Linked DNA regions of Homo sapiens: all the other regions are reported to be linked to region 1. Evidence: microRNA targets listed by miRTarBase, many of them from high-throughput screens and not tested one by one. Region 1 holds a microRNA gene; each other region holds the end of a gene's coding sequence.

Region 1 (7,197 bases):
TATGCCATACATTCGTAAGTGCATTCTTTGGAGAAATAGCTTTCAGAAGACAAATGTACCCATATTTATACGGAACTTGACACAATTGGTCAAATATTTAACCTGATTTAACATTTAATCAATACAAGATTTTTAAATTATAGCAAATTGTAAAATCATACAATTTTTAATTTTATCTTAGTATTCTCAACAATCTTAGAACTTAATATTCTTATAGGCATTTTGATTTAAAAGCTAAGACTAAAATAAGTGATTTTAAACAGCTATTTTGTTCTGACACCATAAAATAAACAGAACTTTATTTTTACAAGATTTATTAACAACCACATAGTTAATAGAAGCATTTTATTACATCAGCACTAATATATGCAACAACAGACTTCATGGCAAAGGTGTGCGTTTCAAAATAGGTGGCCATCTTGAAATTCATAATGTTGAATAACTACAAACGTACATTTATTTTAATCAATATAAACCCTATAACATAAAAATTTGAAAAGGTTTGAACCTTTAAAAAAAATCTCTATTTCATTTGGTAATTGATTTTCCATACTGAAAAACTCATTTTTAATGCAAATAACGTTTCTTATGGCTTTGCCCATGCTGCTACCATATCTCATTACTTCTACTCAGAGTGGGTTATTTTCTAAAGAAGGCTTTGCAAGCTGAGTGTGTGTGTATAAATGTATTGCAAAGGTTTTAAGGGCAAAAATATTGTACATATTAATAAGAAGCAAATTTTTCTTCTTCTTTAAAATAATTCACTTTCTTATTTCAAAACTTCAAGTCTGGTCAAAATTTGGGTTAATCACTGAAACAAAACAACAAAACAATGATTTACATCGAGACTTAATTTCTTTCTTTTTATTATCGTTTTAAACTAACACAACAACATGTGCTCGGTATCTTTATTTTAATTAAGATTTGTTTCTTTATTAGATCTTAGTTATTTGGAGAAACCAGGACGTCTTCTCCACTCACCTGTTTTACACAAAGGTTTTTCACTTAGATTTGCAATTTCGTATTTCCATATAAAATTCGAGAAAGAGTGGAGAAATATAACTACAGAAATAATCTGAAAACTTCAAAACACGGACTTTTCATTATCCTCCAGAATAGAAGATAACATCCAAGGAGTGCTCAAAATCAAAATCAGGTGGCCCTTTCAAAAGTAGAATATGATGAGAGCTTTTAAATTTCACAGATTAAACGTTTCTAAGAGCTTAATGTTTCCTCCGCTTATTGCCACTGTGCCATCTGGCTTTTGTAACTGGTGTCCTGCCTCTTTGAGGCAGCAGAGGGCGCTCTGGCATTGTTGACACCAGATACCTCCCGGTGCACCGCGCTAGCATCTTGTTCCCAGGAAGGAAACATACTATTTCCCTGGAGGGTTGTCCTTGAGTATCTCAACGGGTCAAGCTGTTCCTAAATTATTCCGAGAAGCTTTAATTTCAGACCTAGATGAAAGCTGAGATTGTCAAAGGACTCTCACGGCACGCCGCACCGAAGTTCTCCCATTGCGAAGCCCGGGTTGTTTTATTGCAAAACTGCCGCGCATAGAATTTCTTTCATAGCAGGAAAATTTGTAATGGGCATCAAACTGGATGATTATTTTCCAAAGAAATAGGAAGTACATAGTCTTAAAAATCTAGAAACATCACGGATCAATAGCCACTCGATTTCATCTAGGCAACCGAATTACTAAATTGAGTGTTTCCCTTTTTAAGCAGTATTTTAACCTCTCTCATATCACGTATTTCATTTCTATTTAGAAAGCAATTTTAAACTGATCAAGCTTTCTGAAGGACAAGTTTAGATGATCCTAAACAGGTAGGATTAGGCTGAGGGGATTAGGTTTGCTCCTCTGAGGTAGTATGAATTCTAAAGGAATCAGGCAGGACGATTTTGCAGCCCTGGACCATAGCTGCTTTGTGGATTACGCAAGATGTGGATGCAGGAGATCAGCGCAATTGGATGAATACTGGAAGGAAAAAGCAAGGCCGCCATGATAACGTGTAATGCTTTAAATTCATTTCTGCTTCCAACGACTGCTTTTAATTGGCACAAGAGGAATATTCCCAATCCTTAAATTTTGTAATTCGAGCAGCCCCTATTTTCCAGTGTGCTTTACCCACCCACTCCGAAATTGGATAAAATTAAATATAAACCAAAGTAATCGATGAATGTGAAAGACCCGACTTGCAGAGTTCTAAAATTCGAGGACAGATAAAATCCGCCCTGAGGCAGGGGGTGAGAAGGCAGCTCTCTGAGGATATTGCACCTGGCCGCTTTATTTCATGAATTTTATGATACATCTACATCCCGTGTAAAAAAAATAACTTAATGAACACATGTCTTTTAGGTCATTGTCAATGCATGGCCCATTGTTATACCTGGATCAAAATCGGTGTTGCTGTCTCTATTGTCCAACCTGAATTATTTTGTCTGTTACTAATTTTAACACCCTTTATGTTTGTGAATTTATAGACAAACTCAAGCAAATGCATAGAAATTTCTTTTGAGAAATAGCCAGCCAGGGTGGCTACGAATTGGTTGATTTTCCGTCTCTCTCTCTCTCTCTCTCCCTTGCCATTTTGATTCATTACTTAGGGAATTTAAATTTGTATTGTTTACATTTAATACTTTCAACATCTAAGAACGATGAAATATGCTAAGAAATTTAGATTTTTGAATATATCAATACTGACTCATCCAACCTTCGATTTCTAAGGCGAATTTTCACTGCATAAGATTTAGTAAACCGCCCTGCCTCTTTCCGTCGCGTGAGCTATGAGGATGTGGCTGAGGTCGGTTTTTCCGCAGTGCGGGTTTCAGGCCTCCTGGCCCTCCAGTGCCTCCCGCCGGCTGGGATGCGCCGAGCAGGCTCCTGCGCAGCAGAGCGGTCTGCAGAGCTCAGCCCTCTGTACCCGTCTACTAAGGCTGCCGGGCTGCAAGGCCTGGCCGAAGGTGGCAAGCTGCATGGGCTCCTGCCCTGTTTCACCTGGTGGGTCCCCGACCCACCCCTTCCTAGTTAAGCCTCGAGGCCCACACTTGAGTCCATTGCACGTCCCTTTGGTGACCAAGTAAGCACTAAAATCCGCGGCTGAGGACCTTATGTTTCTGTTTTAAGGAAGATGATTTAAGAAAGAAAAGGATAATAATAAAGCCTTCATTCTCCTCAATTTCCTTCTTGCAATCCTGCGATTTAGGTTTCAGCCTAAATAAAGTGGAAATGGTTTCCCCATACACTTACAATGTATGTATGTGTGCATTCCTACGTGAAGACCAAAAAGTGTCAGGCAAGGGTAGCAACCAGCTTGAGGGAACGATTTCAGTAAAATATTGTTTTGCTGTATGTGACCTTTTTCTCTTTTTAAATGTTATTTTTCAAATTACCTAATATCCTACTCTTCTTTTGAGTAGGGACGGGACGGTCCTATTGCTTTTCCAGTTTGATTACGGAGAGAGAAAAGGGCCACGGTCAGCACCGCGGACAGCGCCAGGCAGGGAGGGCGCGGCTACTTTGGTGCATCCTCTTAGCTCCTCTCCTTTGTTCCCAACCCCTGCAGGCCAAGGCAGAACAAAGACATCAAGGCTCGCTTTTTCGGCCTGGGTTTTTCTTTGGCTCCAAAGTCGTGGTGCGGAACTGCTACCTCAACATAGTCCACCTCACTGGCTTCCAAACAAATTAATTTACCGAGTCCTTCTAAAGTTTCTGACCTGGTCCTTTCACCTTATCCCACTCCTTTGACCGATTTGGACATTGCGACAATGCCAAAACAAGAGAGTTATCTTGGCGTCTTAAAGCCAGGCATGAACGCCTCGAGATTGGGAAGAAAAAGGGAGAAGTCAAGGGGAAATGCGGGCGGCAAGTGTTCTTCAGATCTTTCCAAAGTTTGGACGTTTCATTTGCTGTTTCTTGCGCAGTGTGGTCAGGACGCTATTTAATGTTACACCTCTCTCTGCTGTTTTGTTTTCCCAGCTTGGCCCAGGACTGCAGACAATCACACTACCTGTTCTTGAAAGAACTAGTGCTTTCTAAATGATTTAACTCTCTGGAATATTTGCACAGGCGGGAACTACTGCTCTCCAGACAGCTGTCAATGAAGCTTCCCTAAAATTCTCCTCGGAGATTTGCCTGCGGATTTCCGCGGCTGTAATGGAAAAGTAGGAGCCTTTCCCTTTCGAACACTAGGTTGCTTCCAGAATCAGTCCTGGGTGGGGGTGGGGGGCATTTATGCGGCAAGAGATGGGTTCCTTTTACTACCCCCTAAATTCCCTGCAATTGCTTTTTCCCCTTTCTGACCCTGAGATGCTTTGGTGTCCTTCAAGTGCAGCCGTAGGCTCCGCTCTTGGCATTCACCGCGTGCCTTAATTGTATGACATTAAATCAAGGTCCGCTGTGAACACGGAGAGCAGAGCCTCTAATCTTGATCCGGAAAGTATAAGACCCACTGCGATTACCACTCTTCTCTCCCTGCCCATCCCCCTCTCTCCGCTCTGAGTCTCTACCCCTAGAGTCATAACTCATAAGCCCAGCTCCTGTCTCTGCTCATCTCTGACACATCTGCCAGAGCCGCTGTTAATTAGTCTGTTCCGTGGAAGTGTAGACGGTGCGTGTGCCTGCGTATACATATGCATATATCTCCATGCCATTTACAGCACACGCCTAAAAACATACATAAGCCTATAAATCTAGTTTTCAAATGACGGCGTGGATCCAAGTTAATTACCCCTCTGGTACAGATCTAATTTTGTAATCGTGTTATTTTACTGAATGCAATTAACCCAGTTGGTTCGCCCTGAATCCTTTCTAAGGCACTTGTAAGGAATGGCAGGTTTTTAAGGACCACGCTATTGCATGTTCTCCGTCATAACCATTGCCAATCATTTTCTGCTGTCAGGGATGAAATCTAGCATATAAAAGAGAAAACCATGCGTGTGTGCCTGTAAGATAAACACACAGATATGCCTGGGCTCTGTGTCCTTTGATAACGTTACCGCGGGTTTGGTTGGGAGATTTTGGGAAAAGAGAGTCCAAGGGCGGGCTGGGTCATCTTTCTTTGTAATGCGGAAAAATTAACTCATCCGCACCTGCCTAGTCCCGAGAGAGCTGGGCGGCCCATCTGGTCTGGCTACAAGTTTGCTGCGGAGAGAAAAGCCTGCTCACTAAAGCTTCCCCACTGCCCAGGAGCGCGGACCTCGGGTCTGGGCCCGGAAGAGGGATTAGGCTCAGGGCAGCGCAGCCGACTCGCACTCCTCAGCCAGTGGCCACAGTCTGGGGCTGGAAGCGCCTGGGCCGGGCGGAGGGAGGGCAAGCAGGAGAGAGAAAAGGGTGAGGGAAGTTGACCTCTACGGGCGGAGCCCTCTGCGCAGCGGGCAGGAGGCAGCGGGCGCGACGGCTCTTTTCACGGCGTCCCCTACGGCGTGGTCGACCCGAGGGAAAGGCCCGCTCCCGCTCCAGAGTCCGAGGAAAGGAGAGAGAGCTGAGAGCTGGTCTTGCGCAGAGACCCCAGAATGCGCCCCTGAAAAACAGAATCAAAGCGCAGTGTTAGGGAGGCGGGAGAGAGGAGGGGGAGGGTGGGGAGAGGGACACGAGGCGGGAGGGAGCATGCGAGGGATACAAGGTGACAAGAGGACAGGACCCCAGTCGGCCGGTCGCGACCTCCGTCCCCAGGCTTCAGGGGGACGCGGAGGGGACCCTGAGCCCACGGAGCGCGGGGCCCGCAGCCCGGGGGGAGGGGGTGGCGCGATGACTGTAAGCGCAGGTCTGGGCTGCGGAAGTCCAGAGGAGGGTGCATGCGCTGCGGATACTGCCGCGTCCAGAGAAACGATTTCGGGAGCTGGAGCAGTGAAAACGAGTCCGCAGATGGTCCTTCTGTGCAGTCCCAGCCGTTCCCGCATTCTGCACCCCCTTTCCCAGCCTCACCCCCTCCCTTGGACCACACGCCAGACCCGCACTCTCGAATCTCCACCCCTCTTCGTTTAGGACCCTGCAAACTGCAAGACCGGCAAGAGAATCGAAACGATCGATGAGAGAAAGAATTACATATACCCATAGCCCTAGAAATCCGGAGAGAGACCTGCTAGCCCTGTTCAAACCTGCAGAGGACCAAAACGTTTTCAATCGCTGCTCAGCGCGTTCGCAGAGGAAAGAAGAGGCTGAGAGCCTTCCGTGGTATAAGGTGCTTTAAGGTGGGAGGTGGGGGTAGGGAGGGGGTGGGTCGGAGCGGTCCGGTCTTTCCCCCTCGCTTGCTGATCCAGAATTAGGGATTAATGGCTCGCTCCAGCCAAACAAATAAGGCATCTGCCTTCAGCACAAGAGGATTACACGGGCTGCTGACGTCACCAGTCAGACAGATGTTGGCTCCCAAAGTCCTGAGCAGCTCGCTGTGTCCTTGAAACCAAAGAGCCGCAGAAGGCTCGCAGCCCCCAGTTGCAGAGCCTAGGTACAGCAGAGGGCAAGAGCCCTGCCCTTGCCGACAACCTCTTGGCGTCAACCCAGTGCCCGCAGGCAGCTCCCTAAGACGTCGAGCTTCCAGCCTCTCCAAGCGCTCCCTTCGCCGTCCTGCTGTCAAAACCCAGGCTCTCTCAAAACAAGCCAAAGTCACCGTTCTCAGTTGCCTCTCCCTAACATGGAGACAAACGCCCACAACCCAGTCGACACCTTATCTAGATCCCACATTTAAGCTCTCGGGCTCCTGTTCACTCACACTCGGTTGGCCAAGTAACAGGAAAATAAGCACCTTAGGCCGGACACAGCCCACGCTCCAGCTGAGGGACCGCCTCTTAATTATGTGCGCAAGCAGCAAAAGCAGAGCTAATCTGCATCTCCTCTTCTCAACCCCGCAGCCTGCCTTCCCCCGAGGCCAAGGTTTAGGTTTATGTTTAATCTTATCACGAATGCCATTCCGGACGAATGTGCCTTTCAAAACAATGACGCTTTGCCAACCTAACTCAGCGTCCCAACCAGAGCCCTGGACCACCACTCGGTGAACCACGGGGACCTCACCATGGTCCTGATTAGGACACGGAAAAAATGTCATTGCATATTCTTCTCAAGTACTTTGAATACGTTGTCTAAAACTAAAATATTAAAATAAGTATGTGTGTTCAAAATATATGTAGCATCTAATTCCAGCAACCTGCACATTCAAAGAACTGCAGTTTCATTTTATAGCCAAATCTGATGAATAA
Region 2 (7,197 bases), not on the chromosome of region 1:
CTGTGATCCCAGCTACTCAGGAGGCTGAGACAGAATTGCTTGAACCCAGGAGGCGGAGGTTGCAGTGAGCTGAGATCGCACCATTGCACTCTAGCCTGGGCGACAGAGTGAGACTCTGTCTCAAAAAAAAAAAAAAAAAAAAAAAAAAAAATTCCCAGAGAAGGTTCTACAGTATTTCTGTACCAGTGTTTGATCATCTTCATGGACAAGAAGCATAATTTTCTTGAATACACTAAATCTCCCTTTCTGATTTCTCTTCTTAAGTAGCAACCACCCAAACTTCTCTTTAAATTGTAGGTCACCTCGGCTGGGCGCGGTCACTCACACCTGTAATCCCAGCACTTTGGGAGGCTGAGGTGGGTGGATCACCTGAGGTTGGGAGTTCCAGACCAGCCTGATCAACATGGAGAAACCCCGTCTCTAGTAAAAATACAAAATTAGCCGGGCATGGTGGTGCATGCCTGTAATCCCAGCTACTCGGGAGGCTGAGGCAGGAGAATCACTTGAACCCGGGAGGCAGAGGTTGTGGTGAGCCAAGATGGCACCATTGCACTCTAGGCTGGGCAACAAGAGCGAAACTCTGTCTTAAAAAAAAAAATTATAGGTCACCTCAATTTCACCTGTGTTCAGGGCTTTGTATCAAAAGTAGAGATGTCTATGAAACAAAAACTCAATTCTCAATATAAAAGCTAGAAAAACAAGACCGTGGATCTTAGGAGAATGAACGAGATGTCATGATGTAGGAAATAAAGTTTCATCTTCCACCTCGAAGTCAGCTGAGGATAATATTAGAAGAATTTTAAAAAGTCATACAGTCATGAGCAGGAAGACAGATTAGAATTCATCTAATTTGTGACTTTGCTTCTTGGTAAAATTGTCCCTGAGATCAAAGACATCATTAATATTCTCCTTAGGGACATATTTCAACAAAATGTGATAGAATAAAATGTTTGCAGTCAGTTTCCAAACTAAGATTCTTTGCTTGCTACTTGACACTGGACTTTAAATTTGTTCTCTACGTTGTCTTCCTTAACTATGCTTCAGGTATTTGTGCCCAGGACGTGGGGTGAGGAGTTGAGAGAAATGGGTGAAAGGTGTTAGAGAGGTAGGCAGGAAAATTAGTGAGGGTAGAAAGTCCCAAAATCCTTTCTAGAGGTAGAGCATGCTTCTCTTGCTACTCTTACTACATTAGAATAAGCCTGTCTCTTTTTGCTATTTACTACATATAGACTAAAACAGTTCTCCTTCTTAAATAGCAGAGACCACGCAGAGGCTGCCTTTGGATCAAGTCCAGGAAGTGCTTCCCCCAATTCCAGAACTATAAGTTACTTCCACAGTGCATCAGTGAGATCAATATACACGGTGAGTGATGATTCGGCTTTATCGACTTCTTCATTATAAACACAGATAAATTCAAGGATGCACAGTTGATCCCAAACTCCATTTCTATCTGGTAGGAGGTAGAAAATGATGAATTTGCAAAGTCAGTTCATATGAATTAGATGACATGAAATAAAATGACTATTTTCTCTAAGATCTAGGAAGGATCAGTAGATGGATCTCTTAGTCTGTTAAACTAATCTGTTAGTCTTTTAAACTGCTCCTGAGATGATAGCTTATCCCTTGGCCCTGTTTTTCCGGAGTTGAGCCATAACTTAGTTAGACTATGAGAAAATAGAGAATGAGATGTGTAAAGCAAACTGCCTCCTCCACAATTATTGAAATAAAAACTTCTCTAAATGTAACATCTGATAATCTAAATTAATGCATATTGATTTCCATGAATTTAAGTCTAAAAGTATGGTCAAAAGTGTTGAAATTTTTTTTTATTCATTCATCAAATCTTTCTTAAGTAGCAATTATGTTAAAGGCACTAGGAATAGCCATTGTAGGGGGTATAAAAATTATAACAGGGAAGGGGAGGGAAACTAGCATTTATAAGCATCCCACTTATTGTGCTTTGTGGTAATTGGTTATATCATTTACTCTTCAGAATACGTGGGTGGTTTTTCAGTCAAGGTCCTATCAGGAAATTGATATTGCACTCAAATTGAATAATTTGAGATTAGTTTAATGAAGGGCATATTAAACTAGGGTGTGGGAAAACTAAAAGGGAGAATGCAGCACCCTGAGACTAGGAAGAGTGGGGCCCTGCTACTGTCTTTAAGACTAAAGGGGAAAGAAACCCAGAGAGACAGAGACAGAGACAGACATGCATGCATGTATACACACACACACACACACACAAACACACACACACAGTGTGTGAGGAGGGCTGTCCTACAGGAGCTGTGACATTTGGTCAAGGGACACTATAGCCTGGGGTCACCCTGAAAAGAGAGAATAACTATCCTAACTTTGGGAACTCTTTTACACTGTTGGTAGGAAGAGTATAGCCACTACAGAAAACAGTAGGATATTTCTCAAAAAACTTAAAATAGAACTACTCTTCCATTCAGCAATCCCGCTACTGGGTATCTACCCAAAGGAAAATAAATCACCTCAGGGTGTGGTGGCTCACATCTGTAATCCCAGCACTTTGGGAGGCTGAGGTGGGCAGGTTGCTGGAGCTCAGGGGTTCGAGACCAGCCTGAGCAACATGGTGAAACCCTGTCTCTACAAAAAATACAAAAATTAGCCAGGCGTGGTGACACGTGTCTGAAATCCCAGCTACTGGGGAGGCTGAGGCAGGAAGATCACTTGAGCCTGGGAAGTTGAGGCTGCAGTGAGCTGTGTTCATGCCATGCCACTGCGCTCTAGCTTGGGAGACAAAATGAGACCATGTCTTAAAAAACAAAAAAAGAAAGAAACGGAAAAAGAAAATAAATCACTATAGCAAAGGGATACCTATACTCACATGTTTATTGTAGCACTATTCACAATAGCAAAGATATGGAATGGACCTAAGTGCCCATCAACAGGTGAATGGATAAACAAATGTGGTGCATATATACAATGAAATATTTGCCATAAAAAATGAAATCGTGCCATATGCAGCAACTTGGATGGGACTGGAGGTCATTATCTCAAGTGAAGTAAGCCACGGACAAAAAGGCAAATATCACATGTTCTCCACTTGTAGGTGAGAGCTAAAAAAGTTGATCACATGGAAGTAGAGTGGAAAGATAGAGAACAGAGACTGGGAAAGGTAAGTTGTGGGGAGAGGATGAAGGGAAATGGATTAAAGTGAAGGGAAATGGGTTAAAGGGTACAAATGTACAGTCAGATAGAAGGAATACATTGAATGTGTGAAAGCACAGTAGCGTGACTATAATTACACAAAAATGTATTGTACTTGGGCGACAGATATCCTAAGTATTCTGACTTGATCACTAATCACTATGCATTATATACATAGAACAAAAGTTAACAGGTACCCCATAAATTTGTACAAACAAACCCCAACTTTGCCATCATCTCTTCCTCTAATGTGCTAGTACTCCCCCATTGACCAAACCCAGCCAGAGCCAGAGGGCACTGGAGCCCAGCGGAGGCAGTTATGTAAGTTGGCCTCCCAGGGCACCAAGTAGGGTGGAAACGAGTGGAGGGCAGATTGGGAGAGGCAGCCAAAGGGATCCAGCGTCGATGGCTCAATACGCCAAATTGAAACTTAGTGCCAAGAATCTGTCTGTGTTCAAGGTTAAAGAGAGGCAGGTCTTAGTACTTTGGGTCTCAGTGCAACCAGGGTCTGCTGTTGGCTCAGAAATTCCTAAGTAGCATATAGTGTAGTCATATGATTGTGTCAATGAAATATTACTGGATATTATTATGCTCGAGACCTCTCATTCTGGTTGTTCATTCTGGGATGCTTATCTTTGCATCTGAAGAGTTCCTCTTTCTTTGTTCATTCACCAAATGATTTTTGACCACCTACTGTATGTTGAGAATCCTACTCATTGGCAAAAACAACAATGTAGTCAATGGAGGAGTCAGATTAGAGAAGCCCTAATTCCAATAAAGACTCAAGTAACATGATAAAGGTGTTCACATGTGAAGAGAGGGACTTGGGGAGCACGATAGAGAGACTCCTCCTTCAGAGGACATGATGCCTAGCGTTTAGATGTTCAATAAGGATTTGTTGAGTAAATGAATAAATCCCAATTTCTATGTCTCTGTGTTAGAATCATGGAATGTTATAATTGAAAGAAACTGGCATGAACACTTACACTTTCATTTGATAGATATAGAAAATAAACCAAACATGCTGTAGCAGCAGAGGTTAGTGGAGACTCTAGGTTTCCTTGGTCCTAGGCTGAGAAGTTTGTTATCACTGAGCACAATGTCTTCTTAGGGATATAATGGGGGGTGTCATGGCGTAACACAGAATCAGTCCTGGGGTCACCCTGAAAAGGGAGAATAACTGTCCCAACTTTGGGAACTCTTATACACTGCTGGTAGGAATGTAAACTAGTATAGCCACTACAGAAAACAGTATGGAGATTTCTCAAAAAACTAAAAATAGAACTACTGTTCCATTTAGCAATCCCACTACTGGGTATCTACCCAAAGGAAAAGAAGTCATGGAAGGGTGTGGTGGCTCACGCCTGTAATCCCAGTACTTTGGGAGGCTGAGGCGGTCAGGTTGCCCTGAAAGAGCCCTGAATCAGAGACTTGAGAACATTTTTTGGTGGTCTTATAAGCCATAGTTTTAACAAACGGTTTTAAAATTGTTTTCTGCCCATTCTAATTCAAGTAACACTTAACAAAATTTTTGTGTGAATAATATTTTCTTGCTTTTATTTAAATCTTCAGAATATCCCCGGGCAAGTTGGACCGAGCCCTTTGAAGAATACTCAGAAGTTTATTTTGTGAATGAGTAGACTGGAAAATGTTTGTGTCCAGCTGAGGATGCACAGTTGGAAAGCAGGAGGAATGCTGACTGGTTGATGAAAACTAGCTTAAGAGCATTCATTCGCTCCATGAGATCAAGGGAACAAGAGTGTTTGCAAGAAGCCATTATGAGTCATGGAAAAAAAGATGATGAAACCCATGGAAACAGCAAGAGAATTCCCACTCTCTCTCTTCTTAAAAAAAATCTATCATTATACAGCACAGAGTGGAGCCAAGTTTTTAATTTTGAGGAACCAAAAACAGGATCAAATATGAAAACCCTTTCTTTTATTGGGCCACATTGTAGATGCTGATTTGATAATTGTTTCCTATGCAGATAGATTATTTTTATTTCACAGATTATTTAAAAGGGAAGAGGGCCTGGTTGTTTATTTATATGTTTGTTTGCATTTATGAATCTTGCTGCCTTTTAGCACCAGGATGTTTTTAAAAAAATTCAAAGAGGCCAGGCGCAGTGGCTCATGCCTGTAATCCCAGCACTTTGGGATTCTGAGGTGGGAGGATCATGAGGTCAAGGGATCGAGACCATCCTGGCCAACATGGTGAAACCCTGTCTCTACTAAAAACACAAAAATTAGCTGGGTGTGGTGGTGCGCGCCTGTAGTCCCAGCTCCTCAGGAGGCTGAGGCAGGAGAATCACTTGAACCTGGCAGGCAGAGTTTGCAGTGAACCAAGATCACGCCACTGCATTACAGCCTGGTGCAGAGCAAGACTCTGTCTCAAAAAAAAAAAAAAAAAAAAATCAAAGATACCAATAAAACGAATTTAAATAAAATACTTAAGTACTTTAATAGCAAAACGTTTCCTTTGATTCTTTTGGCTTTCATATTTGTTATAGCCATTGTTAATGTCAAGCATAATTATAGTTACTAATAACAATAAAAAAGCACATATAGACAAGAGGGCAGCTCTTGACATTAAAATATAAACATGCTTTTCCAGAGTTAAGGTGGAACTTAATCTCCTGGCCATCATTATATGGCTACAGTTGCTTATCTGAGTTGATTTACAGGATTAACTGCAGGGTCAGATTTAATAATCAGTGATGGGGTTGAGGACACGCTGCCCCAAAATATGGCACCTTGGCAAACTGAATTTTTTAAGCTGAAGGATTTGAGAAAATGGCAAATTTTAAGTGGAAATATTACTCTGACCTTCCTTTGCCACCTTTCTCCCCGGAAGCAGGTAATAAAACCTTTGCTGACCTTCCTCTAAAACACATCATAGGACCCTCATGTGAGAGGTGCTCTTCCTGTATCCACAGAGGAAAGGCAGTTCCCTATCTCCCAAGACACAGGGACCCAGAGGAGAATCTGAACAAACGGGCTCTGCTAAGTTTCCCTCCATTTATTCCTATTAGATCTAGTACTCTTTTTGCCTGATCATATTTCTGCAAGTGTCTCTCCATTCTTCATCAAACCTACTACTAAAAACACTCAAGTGTAACTGTTTCCTCTGATCTTCACTTCCTGAGGATGGCCCTTGTGTTACGTAGAACTTGTTTAAATAAACCACTATGTTTTTCTCTGGTTAATCTTTTATTATAAAGGATTCAGCTCTGAATTTAAAAGGGTAGGAGGAAAAGATATTTTTCCCTTCCTACATAAGCAATCTAACAGGCATGAATATTCCAGCACACAGAGGTTTTTTTTTCTGGTATTCGATTATTTTTTCTCTAGATCACAAATTGAGATTCTAATTGTAAAATTTAGAGATTGAAGATTTCGCAAACGGAATTACAGTAGTCTCACTTTTTCTGGTCTGTGTATCCCTAAATAATAGGTGAGTCAAACTCAGGTCTGGGATTTTTCAGCGGTAGTGAAGGGGCATTACACCCTGTGAGGTATGGATATTATGCAATTTCTCAGAAGCCAAATTATTGTTTCCCTACACACCACCTCTTATGTTCTGACCAATGACTTAGAAATCAATGAGAACTTGGCTTGCAAAAAGCAAACATAAAGCTTCGAGTCCAGTTAAATTGTGGCAGCTTTCAGGAAGCTAATTTCGCCGATTCATTAAAATAATCGACTTTTAACAGATACTGTGACGCACGCAAAGATGTAGATGGCCTACTCTGCCTACAGAGAATTTACACTCTGGCAGAGGAGACAGGATGTGTACACCACTGGTGAAAATACTGGACACAATACGGTAAGCTAAGTGTCAATTGCAGGATGCATGCTTCCTGCTGAGAATTTACAAGCCAATAGGATCACTTCCAGTTGGGAGGAATTAGGGCAGGCTTTTGAGCAGGGTTTTGAAGATGGCTTTTCCTGATTCTCAGAATCACCAAACCTCTCAAATAAACACGTTCTCAGCCCCCATAGCCCTTTTCATACCTGT
Region 3 (7,175 bases), not on the chromosome of region 1:
AGCTACTCGGGAGGCTGAGGCAGAAAAATCACTTAAATCACTTTAACACGGGAGGCGGAGGTTGCGGTGAGCTGAGATCGCGCCATTGCACTCCAGCCTGGGCAACAAGAGCGAAACTCCGTCTCAAAAAAAAAAAAAAAAAAAAACAAGGAATGTGTAATTGCTGTTTTCTTCCCTCTTCGTATGTATGTAGGGGGAATGAGGGCTGAGTAGTTCACACTTAATTTAGTAGAAATGAGAATCTTAACTTCTGATTAACCCCAATTCTTCTATAACAGTGTTTCTGAATTTTTAATGGGAAATATGTTCTTCTTCAATTCATTGCTATCTCTACTTTCAGGATGGCAAGCTTACCAAGGAGGAGATCGTTGACAAGTATGACTTATTTGTTGGCAGCCAGGCCACAGATTTTGGGGAGGCCTTAGTACGGCATGATGAGTTCTGAGCTACGGAGGAACCCTCATTTCCTCAAAAGTAATTTATTTTTACAGCTTCTGGTTTCACATGAAATTGTTTGCGCTACTGAGACTGTTACTACAAACTTTTTAAGACATGAAAAGGCGTAATGAAAACCATCCCGTCCCCATTCCTCCTCCTCTCTGAGGGACTGGAGGGAAGCCGTGCTTCTGAGGAACAACTCTAATTAGTACACTTGTGTTTGTAGATTTACACTTTGTATTATGTATTAACATGGCGTGTTTATTTTTGTATTTTTCTCTGGTTGGGAGTATGATATGAAGGATCAAGATCCTCAACTCACACATGTAGACAAACATTAGCTCTTTACTCTTTCTCAACCCCTTTTATGATTTTAATAATTCTCACTTAACTAATTTTGTAAGCCTGAGATCAATAAGAAATGTTCAGGAGAGAGGAAAGAAAAAAAATATATGCTCCACAATTTATATTTAGAGAGAGAACACTTAGTCTTGCCTGTCAAAAAGTCCAACATTTCATAGGTAGTAGGGGCCACATATTACATTCAGTTGCTATAGGTCCAGCAACTGAACCTGCCATTACCTGGGCAAGGAAAGATCCCTTTGCTCTAGGAAAGCTTGGCCCAAATTGATTTTCTTCTTTTTCCCCCTGTAGGACTGACTGTTGGCTAATTTTGTCAAGCACAGCTGTGGTGGGAAGAGTTAGGGCCAGTGTCTTGAAAATCAATCAAGTAGTGAATGTGATCTCTTTGCAGAGCTATAGATAGAAACAGCTGGAAAACTAAAGGAAAAATACAAGTGTTTTCGGGGCATACATTTTTTTTCTGGGTGTGCATCTGTTGAAATGCTCAAGACTTAATTATTTGCCTTTTGAAATCACTGTAAATGCCCCCATCCGGTTCCTCTTCTTCCCAGGTGTGCCAAGGAATTAATCTTGGTTTCACTACAATTAAAATTCACTCCTTTCCAATCATGTCATTGAAAGTGCCTTTAACGAAAGAAATGGTCACTGAATGGGAATTCTCTTAAGAAACCCTGAGATTAAAAAAAGACTATTTGGATAACTTATAGGAAAGCCTAGAACCTCCCAGTAGAGTGGGGATTTTTTTCTTCTTCCCTTTCTCTTTTGGACAATAGTTAAATTAGCAGTATTAGTTATGAGTTTGGTTGCAGTGTTCTTATCTTGTGGGCTGATTTCCAAAAACCACATGCTGCTGAATTTACCAGGGATCCTCATACCTCACAATGCAAACCACTTACTACCAGGCCTTTTTCTGTGTCCACTGGAGAGCTTGAGCTCACACTCAAAGATCAGAGGACCTACAGAGAGGGCTCTTTGGTTTGAGGACCATGGCTTACCTTTCCTGCCTTTGACCCATCACACCCCATTTCCTCCTCTTTCCCTCTCCCCGCTGCCAAAAAAAAAAAAAAAGGAAACGTTTATCATGAATCAACAGGGTTTCAGTCCTTATCAAAGAGAGATGTGGAAAGAGCTAAAGAAACCACCCTTTGTTCCCAACTCCACTTTACCCATATTTTATGCAACACAAACACTGTCCTTTTGGGTCCCTTTCTTACAGATGGACCTCTTGAGAAGAATTATCGTATTCCACGTTTTTAGCCCTCAGGTTACCAAGATAAATATATGTATATATAACCTTTATTATTGCTATATCTTTGTGGATAATACATTCAGGTGGTGCTGGGTGATTTATTATAATCTGAACCTAGGTATATCCTTTGGTCTTCCACAGTCATGTTGAGGTGGGCTCCCTGGTATGGTAAAAAGCCAGGTATAATGTAACTTCACCCCAGCCTTTGTACTAAGCTCTTGATAGTGGATATACTCTTTTAAGTTTAGCCCCAATATAGGGTAATGGAAATTTCCTGCCCTCTGGGTTCCCCATTTTTACTATTAAGAAGACCAGTGATAATTTAATAATGCCACCAACTCTGGCTTAGTTAAGTGAGAGTGTGAACTGTGTGGCAAGAGAGCCTCACACCTCACTAGGTGCAGAGAGCCCAGGCCTTATGTTAAAATCATGCACTTGAAAAGCAAACCTTAATCTGCAAAGACAGCAGCAAGCATTATACGGTCATCTTGAATGATCCCTTTGAAATTTTTTTTTTGTTTGTTTGTTTAAATCAAGCCTGAGGCTGGTGAACAGTAGCTACACACCCATATTGTGTGTTCTGTGAATGCTAGCTCTCTTGAATTTGGATATTGGTTATTTTTTATAGAGTGTAAACCAAGTTTTATATTCTGCAATGCGAACAGGTACCTATCTGTTTCTAAATAAAACTGTTTACATTCATTATGGGGTATGTATGACCTTCATTTTCCAAGAAATAGAACTCTAGCTTAGAATTATGGATGCTCTAAAATGTCAGAATGGGAACTCTCCTCGAAGTTCTCCCAAACTCAGAGACAGCACTGCCTTCTCCTAAATGATTATTCTTTTCTCCCTGTTTTCTGGTATTTTCTAGCATCCTTCTCACCACAGCCATAACCCTTTTTTACTTCCATTAGGCCGTATAACTGGAGAGACCTGCTGCTCGTTATATAATTATCTGATACCAAACACAAGCGATTCTGAATGTACACACACGTTTATCTATAGAGCATAAGGTAAAACAATTTTGTTTAACATTTTGGTATTGTTTACAAATGTTATTAAAACATGCAAATTCATTTTGAGAACCTCGAGAGAATTAAACTATTAACTTTAGTAAACACACAGTTTAAGACAAATATAAAGGTTTAGCCAAATGCAACGGGGAGGAAGCACCTGGAATAATTTGTGCTTGCTCAGGGGCTTGTGGACATGGCTGTTCCTGCCAAAGCTGTAGCAGTTATCCAAAAGTTCTTTCAAACTCATATTTGGGGCCACTGAGTTTTTTTTGTTTTTTTTTTTGTTTTGTTTTGTTTTTTCTTTATGTCTCTCCCATTTCTAAAGTGTTTTCTTAAGTTTGTTCTAATTCAGCATATATCATCTCAGAATGGATCCCCAGCAGGAAAAAAAAAAAAAGTTACTAAAAAGGAAAGTATCCATACACTGAAAACTTAAAGCATATTCCTTTTTGGTTGCCTTGTATGTAGAAATCAGTTCTCCAAGTGCTGTGAATGGTGCCACTTAGGAGTAGAAACTGATGATTGTTGAAATGGCCTTTGGGTGGTCTGAAATAGACCAGTGGAAACAGTAGCTTTGTAGGCAAGAAGGCAATAGTAAGAAAATGAAAAATTGACTCCCCAAACTGCCATCACTCCTTTTACCATCTTTTTTGTGTTTTTAGTAGTTTGGTTTCTGACGGAGACAATAGAAACTTACTTAAAAGTAAAATTTAATTCTAGCTGTTGCAAACAGGCCAATATTGGGTCCTCAGTTGGGGCCAACTTGGGTAGACGAGACAGTAGAAACTTCTGTTTTCTGGGAGCTGCATGTGTCGGATTCATCTGTCATGGCCTTCCCACACACCATCTTCATGATGCAAGCTTGGAACTGGAGAGAAAGGTACAATTGGAGATAACCTTGGCAGATGAGGAAGTATGGGAAAAAAGACCTTATTCTCTGTATCACCAAAGCCTTGCACAATGCTTTGTACCCAGAATGCCCTTAGGTGGTTTTGAATCTATCTTCCCCATCCTGAAAACTATCTAGATTCCAGTCTAGAACTACTCCTGGGTCTACGGTAATCCTAAACTGGTCAAGTCTGAGACCTCACTGTTGGTAAATTCACAAACCATCCTGCTTCATAAAAGCACTGTCAGCAGAGGCCCCTCCATTACTAGCAGGTGCTCCCAGCTGGAAAGGACTGCCAATTCTCTTCTATCCAGGGAGGTTTCAAATTAGTTTTGAGTCTACCTCTGGGATTGAGGAAACAATACCATCTGAAAGTAGGGTTTTTGCCACTTAGGGTTTGGTGTTTATTAGCTCGGATTTCAGATGGGATAGGAAATCCCCCAGTACCTTCAGATGATAAGATATTTTAGAGATTTTTGCATGTGGTATGATTTCTGTGCTTCACACATGCTCGTGCAGGCTAAAAGTTGGAAGGGAAATGATTAAGAAATTATTAAATGCAAGGACTGAAAATTGAGAGGAATCTGAGTTTTTATTTTTATTTTTTTAATTTTATTTAAGTTCCAGGATACATGTGCAGGATGTGCAGGTTTGTTACATAGGTAAACGTGTGCCATGGTGGTTTGCTGCACGAGTTTTTCAATAAAATGCTTTCATTCATCCTGTTCTTTGGAGCAACTTCATTTTCCTGACTCAAGTTCTTTCCTCCGGGGTTCTATTTTCTCGTCTTGATAACCGTGCCTTCCTCCCTGTGCTTACCAAAGGCTTCCCAACCTACTCGGGGGTTTTGTGGCTTCCCTCGTCTACTAGAAACCTGGGTAGAGTCCAGGGTGCTCTGAGTTAAAAGTCAATGGTGAGAAAAGAACCAGGGTCTTCTGGACCATAGGAATGTGAATAAAGAGCTTTACCTGCTTATTCATGAAGCAGTAGATGATGGGATTGTAGATGCAAGCACTCTTGGAGAAGAATGAAGGAATGGTGACAAGCCGTAAGTCCAGCCCATGGTTACGGTTGTTGACCATGTACATGGCGAAGGCCGCGTAGGGCACGTAGCAGACACAGAAGGATCCTACCATCACAACCACCATGCGGCTCACCTCCCGTTCAGCCTTCTGGGTCGTAGCTGACTCCTGCTGCTGAGCTGCAACCTGGGGTGGAGCACGGAAAGCATCACATCTCTCTTTTTCCTGGCCCTCTGGATGCTTTTTTTTTTTTTTTTTAATTTTTAATTTTTAATTTTCTTTTTGAGACCGAGTCTCGCTCTGTTGCCCAGGCTGGAGTTGCAGTGGTGCAGTCTCGGCTCACTGAACCTCCACCTCCCGGGTTCAAGTGATTCTTTTGTCTCAGCCTCCTGAGTAGCTGGGGTTACAAGCACACACCACCATGCCCAGCTAATTTTCGCATTTTAGCATTTTGCCATGTAGGCCAGGCTGGTCTGGAACTATTGACCTCAGGTGATCCGTCTGCTTCGGCCTCCCAAAGTGCTGGGATTATAGGCGTGAGCCACTGCGCCCGGTCTCTGGATGCTTTTCTGTGGGATGGGGGAGGGGGCATCCACTCTGATTGCCTCTTTTCTGTCCCATCTCCTGGCCTAGTTCCTTTGGATCTCCATCATTCTCCCTCCTCCTACTTCCTTTGCTGCTTTTAGATACCCTCTCTGGCTATGGACATTTCCAGGCATCTTATGTTTCAGAGCACTCTTCCTTCTCATGTGGAGCCCCGAACCCCTTCTTCCCTGACTATCAAATGCCACTCACAGCTTTCAGGGCCCTCAGCAGCTGAGTGTAGGAGAAGCAGATGAGGGAGAGAGGCACAATGAAGCAGAAGATGAAGAGGAACCACGTATAGGACTCGCTGCGGTATTTGGTGCCCACGGTGTACCAGTCAGGGCCACAGGAACACTGCAGGCCCTCAGGGATGAACCTGCAAAGGACCAAACACTTGCTCACTGGACTCTCCACAAGAGTGCAGTGGGAGCTGAGATGCCTGGATTGTGTTCTCCACTTAGAACCCACGGAATGCCCTAAGGCTTCAAGCAGGGGGGTTTTCTGTCCTGACTGGGAGAAGCTACAGCAATTCCAACTGCAGAGTAAACGTTAGCACTTGTCTCCCACTGCCCTTTCGCCTCATATTGCAACTCTTTAAAAGTAGAGGTCAAAGACTAAATAGTTATACCCAAGCTCTCTTTCCACCCACATCAACCTGAGCTCCTAGTTAACTCAGCACCACTGCCCTGCACTCTCACCGGCTCCAGCCAAAGAAGGGTGGGATGGAGACGCCAATACCAATGGTCCAGGTAGCCAGGACCACCGTCAGTGCATGCTTGGAGCTGAAGCGGAAGTTGCCGAAGGGCTTACAGATGACAATGTAGCGCTCAAAGGCCAGGAAGGCCAGTGACCATCCTGTAACCAGACCTGTGGTGAAATGTGAGGATAATGGGCTAGACAGAGCCCCACCCAGCCTGGCTGGCAGAGTGGCAAACAGATCGGGTGGAGCAAGCACAGAGAGACAGGGCTGGACTGACATTTGGAGTGAAGACTCAAACATCCTATTTTAGCCAAACTTCTAGTCTGGGTTGCTTTGTACCCCAGTATTTTAAAAAGCACCAGACTCATTTCCCCCAGACTCCTCTTTAGGAACCCCCTCCAGTGGAGTAGCAACCTTTGCCTTCCCCTAACCCCTTTTTCCCCTGCAGTACCTGCTACAGTGCCCAGGAAGCCCTCCAAAGCACAAACATGGCGACCGAAGACGAAGTATCCGTTACAGCTGGCGACGAAGACAGGGAAGACAGAGAAGATGCAGAGGAGGAAGCCTCCGAAGGACACGTTGACCAGAATGTAGTTGAGGGGCTGCCGCAACTTTTTGTAGCGCAGTGTGGCCACCAGCACCATGGCATTGAGTGGGAACCCTATAAGGAAGACAGTGCCCATGAAAGCTGCCTGGAGGTAGAAGGCCCAGACAGGGGCAATGTGGTACTGAGGCCCATCCCACGGCCCCACTGAAGAGATATTTTTGAACAGATAAAACTCTTCCTCCGACATTTTTCTCATGGATGCCCCACACCCCCCTCTGAGTCCTCTTATAGGTGATCCTCCCACCCCACAAAACCCCTCCTCTAAAAACACTTGGGCTCTGTGAATGATCAATACTAATCCTA

The links. Region 1 holds the annotated microRNA hsa-miR-124-3p (UAAGGCACGCGGUGAAUGCCAA, at 4,353-4,374, opposite strand). A microRNA usually pairs through its seed, bases 2 to 8, with sites in the 3' UTR of a target mRNA and lowers its output. Matches are read on the target gene's strand: a 7mer-m8 pairs with bases 2 to 8, a 7mer-A1 pairs with bases 2 to 7 and ends in A, and an 8mer does both.
Region 2: miRTarBase lists TMEM156 as a target of hsa-miR-124-3p. The part of its 3' UTR that is shown has no 7-base or 8-base seed match.
Region 3: miRTarBase lists CALU as a target of hsa-miR-124-3p. Seed matches in the 3' UTR shown: 7mer-m8 at 1,422-1,428.

What each region holds. Positions count from the first base shown.
Region 1 is chr8:64,376,387-64,383,583 of GRCh38, reverse strand. MIR124-2 (microRNA 124-2) reads right to left here and starts at 4,435; the gene lies at 4,327-4,435. It overlaps MIR124-2HG (MIR124-2 host gene), which reads right to left. Exons shown (of 3, transcript NR_109792.1): 2 at 5,095-5,525; 3 at 1-1,981. RefSeq lists an enhancer at 6,441-7,018.
Region 2 is chr4:38,965,197-38,972,393 of GRCh38, reverse strand. TMEM156 (transmembrane protein 156) reads left to right here. Exons shown (of 7, transcript NM_024943.3): 6 at 1,257-1,362; 7 at 4,753-5,650. The coding sequence ends at 1,324. Among named protein-coding and RNA genes, the nearest start is that of TMEM156, 64 kb to the left of the region's middle.
Region 3 is chr7:128,768,723-128,775,897 of GRCh38, forward strand. CALU (calumenin) reads left to right here. Exons shown (of 7, transcript NM_001219.5): 7 at 341-4,678. The coding sequence ends at 445. It overlaps OPN1SW (opsin 1, short wave sensitive), which reads right to left and starts at 7,072. Exons shown (of 5, transcript NM_001385125.1): 1 at 6,717-7,072; 2 at 6,264-6,432; 3 at 5,776-5,941; 4 at 4,927-5,166; 5 at 3,763-3,937. The coding sequence starts at 7,059. The coding sequence ends at 3,818. RefSeq lists cis regulatory regions at 7,058-7,175, 7,066-7,175, 7,069-7,175, 7,069-7,175, 7,069-7,175 and 1 more.